Regions from separate parts of the Homo sapiens genome. Here region 2 is reported to be linked to region 1. Evidence: microRNA targets listed by miRTarBase, many of them from high-throughput screens and not tested one by one. Region 1 holds a microRNA gene; the other region holds the end of a gene's coding sequence.

Region 1 (3,357 bases):
GGCGCGGCTTCGTGGGCATGTAGTCCAATCAGGGCCGCGCTGCCCCCGTCCAGGACCAATCCTGGCTGCTGGCGTCTGGGTCGCCGGTTGGGCGCGCGATAGGTTTTCAGTGCTGAAGGTCGACGGGCGAGAACTACAGTTCCCGTCAGGACGAGCGGAGCGGCGGCTTGTTGCATCCTTAATAAGGAGGTGCCTGGACTTCTAGCGAGAGTCCACATTTTAGGGGTCAAGGTTGTAATTATCTGGGAGGGAGTGCCTTTCTTTTCGCAGCTGAGAACACTTCTGAGTTATTCTTAATCCAAACAAAAGCGAAAGATTTTCATTTGTGGAGCTGAAACTCCTGGTCTTCAAGGAAAGACAGGAGTCATGACCTTGTGGCTCATTTCTGAGATTAGGGCAGGGATCTGTGTCTCCAGGCGCTGGGACTACTTTGACATTCAAGGAGCCTAAATACCCAGTTACTTCTAGTTTTGCGTAATTGCCAAAGTTACTTTCTAAAATTGAAAATTAAAAAGCCTGTTTCCACTGCTCATGATTTTCAGGAAGTTGATATTTTGGCAAAATGTAGATAGCAAACCAAGTACTGTGACTCAAGCAGTAATTGAACAGAATCCCTAGGAATAGTGAGTTAGAGATCATAAAAGTCAAGCTTTGTTTTTTCAAGTTCGCTTCTCTTCCTATTTGCTGCTAGGTAACAGAAGCAGCCCCTTCCATAGGAAAGTGGAACGAACCTGTGTTAGTTTTCTATTGCTGCGTAACAAATACCACAAATTTAGCAGCTTAAAACAACACCCATGAATGACCTTACGGGTTCTGTAGGATAGAAGTCTGGGCACGGATGATCTGTGTTCTCCGCTCCAGGTCACATAAGGCTGCAAAGTATTAGCCATGCTGTGGTTCTCATTTGGAGATCAGGGTCCTCTTCCAGGCTCATGCAGTTTGTTGGCAGAATTCAGTCCCTTGCAGTTACAGGACTGAAGTACTTCTTTTCTTGCTGCCTCTTGCCAGCCACTGCTCCCAGCTTCTACAGCCTGCCTACAGTTCCTTGCCTCAAGGCCTCTAGAGGCCATTCATAACATTGATGTTTGCTTTCGTGCAGGCTACCAGGAGCTTGCCTCTCTGACTTCCAAATTTCTTTTACTTTGGTCTTTCCTCTCTAGACCCAGATTTAAAAGGCTTATGTGATTAGACCAGGCCCACCTGGATGACCTCCTTTTCAGTTAATTCAGAGTCAACTTTTTGGGATCCCATTTGGGAATTAAGAAAACTAATTAAAACTTGGTAATAAAAAATGAACCCTTTTATAGCTCTGAATCAAGATGTCTAAGCTTCTTGAAATTGCTGTCTTGTAAAATTCTTTGGTTTATTCTCACCATCTCCTTAATTCTGTAGCATTTGACATTGCTGCTTTATGAGGCTCTTTGTACTTTTGGCTTCTCTCAAGTAATATTTTGGGTCCCATCTCTCTTGTTTTCCTTTACTGAGTCTGCTTCTGCTTTGTACCTCGAAATATACACCTTCTCATCTCTTCCTGTCTCTTTATAGACTCTCTAATTTGAGATTACATCAACTCTCAGAACTTTAATCCCCAAGCAGGTGACTCTCTAGCCTCGTCGTATTTGATTGTATCAACGTATCCAGAATATCTCACTTGTCAAGATCCTTTCCACTTTATTAAACCCCATCTTTCTTTTTTTTTTTTTGGATACGGAGTCTCACTTTGTCACCCAGGCTGGAGTGCAGTGGCACAGTCATGGCTCACTGCAGCCTTGACCTCCTGAGCGCAAGCAATCCTCTTACCTCAGCCTCCTGAGTAGCTGGGACCACAGGCATGTGCCACCATCCCTGGCTAATTTTTTAAAAAATTTTTGTAGAGACGGAGTCTCTCTGTGTTGGCCAGGCTGGTCTCGAACTCCTGGGCTCAAATGATCCTCCCACTTCTGCCTCCCAAAATGCTGGGAATATAGGCACGAGCCACCGTGCCCAGCCAACCCCATCTTCTTAAATGTCTTACTGCTTTTACTGTTCCCTCCTAGAGTCCATTCTTTACTCTAGGAGGGAATAGTAAAAGCAGTAAGACATTTAGTAAAAGGCTTTTTAAAAGGCAAACATGAGGTCATGCTCTTTGGAGACATCGCATCACATTCAAAATAAAATCTAAACTGCTTACCATGGGCCCTTGATCTGACTCTTCTCATATTTCATTTTTCTACTGCCTCACTCAGATTCTCCTGGTAATCTCCAGCATGTGCCTCACTGCCTTTTCATCAGGTGTTTCTTTTGCCCTGAACTCTTCTCACAGGTTTGCTTAACTTATTCCCTTCAGTTAATTTCTCAAATGTCACCTTCCCTTCAGAGAGGGCATCCTGATCCAAAATAGAATTCTGACTACTCTTGCCTTCCTTGTATCACTATATCTTTACCCCATCCTACTTTGTTATACTTTGTAGCTCCTAGCACTACCTGATGTTATAATGTGTATTTATTACACAGTTTCCACCTTTAAAAAGTAAGCTCCACAATGGAACTGTGTCCATATTTACTGCTGTATTTCCAGTATTAACAATAGTCCCTGGCTCCAAGTAGATGCTCAGTGAATGTTTATGACATATATAAATGAAAGAATGAATGTGTTCATGAATTTTTTTTTAATTTAAAAAGATTTTTTAGAGATGGGGTCTCATTATGTTTCCCAGGCTGGTCTTCAGCTTCTGGGCTCAAGTGATATGCCCACCTCGGCCTCCCAAAGTGGAATTTTTCTTAATCTGTGTAAGTGGATGTGACCTCCCTTTAAACATCCCATAGATTTTCAAACCTCTGATTATATATTCAGATTCTCCAGAGAAACAGAAACAATAAGGGTGTGTGTGTGTGTGTAGAGATAGGGTCTCATTCTGTTGCCCAGGCTGGAGTACAGCAGTGTGATCATAACTCATTGCAGTCTCAATCTCCTGGGCTTAAGCGATCCTCCCACCTCACCTCCTGAGTAGCTGGGACTACAGGCTTATGCCACCATGCCCAGCCAATGTTTTGGACTTTTAGTAGAGATGGGATCTCGCAATGTTGTTCCAGCTCATTTTGAACTTCTGGGCTCAAGCAATATCCCCACCTTCTCCTCCCCAAAGTGCTGGGATTACAGGCGTGAGCCATAGTGCCCAGCCTAGGAAGATTTATTATTTATTTATTAATTTTTTTTGAGATGGAGTCTTGCTCTGTCACCCAGGCTGGAGTGCAGTGGCGCCATTTCAGCACACTGCAAGCTCCGCCTCCCGGGTTCATGCCATTCTCCTGCCTCAGCCTCCCAAGTAGCTGGGACTACAGGCGCCTGCCACCACGCCTAATTTTTTTTTTTTTTTT
Region 2 (3,397 bases), not on the chromosome of region 1:
CGCCACCACGCCCAGCTAATTTTCGTATTTTTAGTAGAGACGGGGTTTCACCATGTTGGCCAGGATGCTCTCGATCTCTTGATCTCGTGATCTGCCCGCCTTGGCCTCCCAAAGTTTTGGGATTACAGGCGTGAGCCCGGCCAATTTTTGTATTTTTTGTAGAGATGGGGTTTCTCCATGTTGCCCAGACTGGTCTTGAACTCCTGGGCTCAAGCGATCCGTCCGCCGCGGCCTCCCAAAGTGGTGGTATTAAAGGTGTGAGCTACAAGGCCGGGCCCCACTGACTGTTCTTTAACTGGTTTTCGAGTCTTCTCTGCATCTAGAGAAGTGGCACAAGATTATGGTCAAGAACATAGGCTTCGAGCCCAGTCATACCTGGGTTTGAAACCCTGCCACTTACCAAACTAACCATGTGACCTCAGGCGAGTGACTCATTTAAGCTTCCCAGTCTGTCAATGCCGGGTGATCCCCCACTTAGACAGTCATCGGAGCATTAGAGAATTCCAGTTCCCCATTCCCATCATGCTTCCTCCTTTCTCAGAGATTTCAAATAGACTCTTCTGCCTGTAACGCTTTGCTTCTCTCTCTCATTTACGGAATTACCTGTTCTGATCTCGGCTCACTGCAGATTGGGGGAGAACCTCAGGTGGCCGCTCTCACAGTTATTTTTCTCTCAGAGCACTTATCAAGTTGGTTATTAAACTTACGTGTGATCACTGCATCAATGAGCGCCCCAGCCCCGGACTGTGGCCTCCCTGAGGGGTACCCCTGGTCCCTAACGGTTGTTCAAGAAACAAGGGGACGAAGCGTAGGCAACCAGCGGCCCTTGAATACTTGGAAGGCGTCCTGCCTGCTCTGGTCCCCCTGGGGCACGTGGGGAGCTGGGACAGGGCTCGTCCGTGGTCAAGGTCCGCAGGTTTGGGAGTTGGGGTCCTGCGTTCCGCCAGTATCATCCCAAGCTGCAACACGAGCAGCCCCGGGGAGGCTCCCACCGCCCTGCAGGGCCGCGCCCTACGCCGGCCGCCGAACTCCAGCCCACCCGCAGGGAAGCTACTCCGAGAACGCAGGCGGAGACAGTGGCCAATCGGACCCGGCGGGTATTCTCATCCCTCCAATCAACACTACGATCCGCCCGGGCAGCTCGGGAATTTAAGGCTACGGATGGGAAAAAGGTTGTCGGAGGGAGGCAGAAGGGACTGGGTTAAATTAAGCAGGAGGGGCAAGAACACACAGAGGACCCTGCAACCAATGGGAATTCGCAGGCTGGGGTGGTTTCGAAGGAAGGTCGAACAGGCCTGAGGAGGCAGAGCTTTAAGTTGAGATAGCCAATAGAGATGAAGGCACAGTAGATGGCGTGTCCTAAATCCAATCGAAATAGAGCTAGAGGTGAGCGGGGCAGGAATGCGGCAGGTTGGAGGCACCCTACCAATCAGACCAGGTCAGCAGCGGACAGGCGGGACGGCCGGCTAATGGGAAACAAGGACTGCGGAAGGCCAGGGTCGGGAGAAGAGGCAGGAGGCTGGCGCTATCTTTCAGGTAGCCAATCACTGTCCGCTAAGAACAGCGGGCGTGTCAGCAGCCCTTTTAGGGACTCTGAGGGTCTCGGAAGGGGCCTGTGAGGGGTCTTTCAAGGTTGAGGAGGCGGCATCGTCCAAAGAGGGAGAAGTATGGTCCCGAGAACCGGGCGAAGGAAGGCGGTTGTGAATTTGGGATCCTCACCTCGGGCCTTGCGCCGAGTCTCCTGGTCACCGAGGCTGGGTGGCTTCTCCATGGAGCTCAGGATGGAGCCCAGTAGGTCCGCCATCTTGGGAGTGACTGAGAGGGGGCGGTGCGTCTTAAAGGGAAGGGCGGAATGCCTTTAAGGCCGGAAACACGTCGGAGGCGGAAAACCCTGGGCCCGCCTGGCCTGGGCGCAGATCCCAGGCCCGCGGTGCATGGCGGCCTCCAGCTGGCCTAGGCCCCGCCCCGCCCCCGCAGACAGAGGCCGGAGGCTGGCTGGTGCAGCGATGTTTAATGGCAATTCGTATAAACCAAGCCCATGCACAAGTAGAAAGTGCCCGTGGAGCCGGCAGGAGGCCCCCGCCGCGCTAGAGAACCACAAGCCCGGCCGTGCAGCCCTCCCCGCGGCGCCTTAAATAGATTCTTCACTATACTCTGTATGTTACAGTATGTACAAGACCCCTCCCCTCGGGGGACGGGGCGGACTCCGCAACGCGTTCCTATGTACACCACCTCCCCTTCGGCCCTGAGGTCAGTGGCCAGAGTCGGGTGATGGGGTAAGACAGGGCCAGAGAGGGAGGAAACAGACGCAAACATGCGGAGTCGGGTGGGGACACGGTCAGCCCTGAAACACGAGGGGCGTGCGCAGCGAAGGCAGTGGTGGGAACCGAGGCGGATACATTCAGAGACGCGTCGAACAAATAAATAAGGCAAGTCAGGAGGGGGCCGAGTCGGGTGCAGGCAGGAGGAGCTGGGGAGCAGGGGCAGGCAGGGCTCCGGAGGTCACAGCGGAAGATGCAGGTATGTGGGGCGCGGGTTTTCTGGAGCCAGGACCAAAAGAGACGGGGCACGACCAGGAGGGACGAGGAGAGGGGTGTGGGAGCAAGGCGTGGGGAGGAGGGAGGAGGCCTACAGAGGGCTCCAACAAAGGTGAACAGGAAAGCTGCCGACAGGGGCTCCCCCTGCCCCAGAAAGCCCTCTCCCTGTTAAGACTGCACGAGGCGCCCCCAGGGTGGTGAGAAAGGCGGTGGCCAGGTCATGTGGCCAGTCCCGGCTGGGGAAGCCCTTCCAGCTCCTGGTTCTGCTTCAGTTCCCTCATCCTGCAGAGAGAAAGATAGGAGTCAGAGGAGACTGGCGGATCACGACGGGTGGCAACGCAAAAGCCCAGGGGGAGAAGGGATGAGTACCTGTGTCGGCAGCGCCGCAGGAATCTCATGATCTTCCGGGCTGCCTGGTCCTGCTTCTTGGTGAGAAAGGAGCCTCTGGTGAAAGAAACAAAAGATGGACCTCACAGAAGGCATCGCATGCCTTCGGCCCCCCCAGGAACCCTAGGCAGGGAATGGCAGTGAGGCATGATGATCAAGAGGATGAGTAAGGGGGAATGGCGTGGATGCAGTGGGTGGGCACAGAGGGCTGGGGCTGGGCCCTACTTGTTGCGGGCAGGCAGGGTGGCCGAAGTCCGGTGGGGAGGGCCGGGCCTGCGGCGGTAGGAGCGGTAGTGCTGCTGGATGAGCACAGCCGCTCGGCGGCTCTGCTGAAATCGCTTCTGTTCATAGTAGCTTCGGAACTTGCTCTGGATCAGGATGGCCGCCTGGGTCATCTTCTTATAGAGTGCAAACTGCAGGGGTGGGGAGGAGGGACAGGGGCTGAAATAGAGGGACGGAGACCCAAAGCCCTG

Evidence for each region. Region 1 holds the annotated microRNA hsa-miR-4779 (UAGGAGGGAAUAGUAAAAGCAG, at 2,053-2,074, shown strand). A microRNA usually pairs through its seed, bases 2 to 8, with sites in the 3' UTR of a target mRNA and lowers its output. Matches are read on the target gene's strand: a 7mer-m8 pairs with bases 2 to 8, a 7mer-A1 pairs with bases 2 to 7 and ends in A, and an 8mer does both.
Region 2: the mRNA of CAMTA2 is a reported target of hsa-miR-4779. Seed matches in the 3' UTR shown: 7mer-m8 at 2,615-2,621, 7mer-m8 at 2,575-2,581 and 7mer-m8 at 2,437-2,443.

Annotation. Positions count from the first base shown.
Region 1 is chr2:86,191,754-86,195,110 of GRCh38, reverse strand. MIR4779 (microRNA 4779) reads left to right here and starts at 2,003; the gene lies at 2,003-2,085. The region is part of intron 1 of IMMT (inner membrane mitochondrial protein); the gene reads left to right. RefSeq lists an enhancer at 99-148.
Region 2 is chr17:4,966,001-4,969,397 of GRCh38, forward strand. CAMTA2 (calmodulin binding transcription activator 2) reads right to left here. Exons shown (of 23, transcript NM_015099.4): 21 at 3,150-3,337; 22 at 2,907-2,981; 23 at 1,997-2,819. The coding sequence ends at 2,756. SPAG7 (sperm associated antigen 7) reads right to left here and starts at 1,817. Exons shown (of 7, transcript NM_004890.3): 1 at 1,720-1,817. The coding sequence starts at 1,804. LOC124900387 (a long non-coding RNA gene) reads right to left here and starts at 1,713. Exons shown (of 2, transcript XR_007065587.1): 1 at 401-1,713; 2 at 1-319. RefSeq lists enhancers at 862-1,539, 1,453-1,952, 1,540-2,216, 2,217-2,894, 2,862-3,397 and 2 more and a silencer at 1,963-2,042.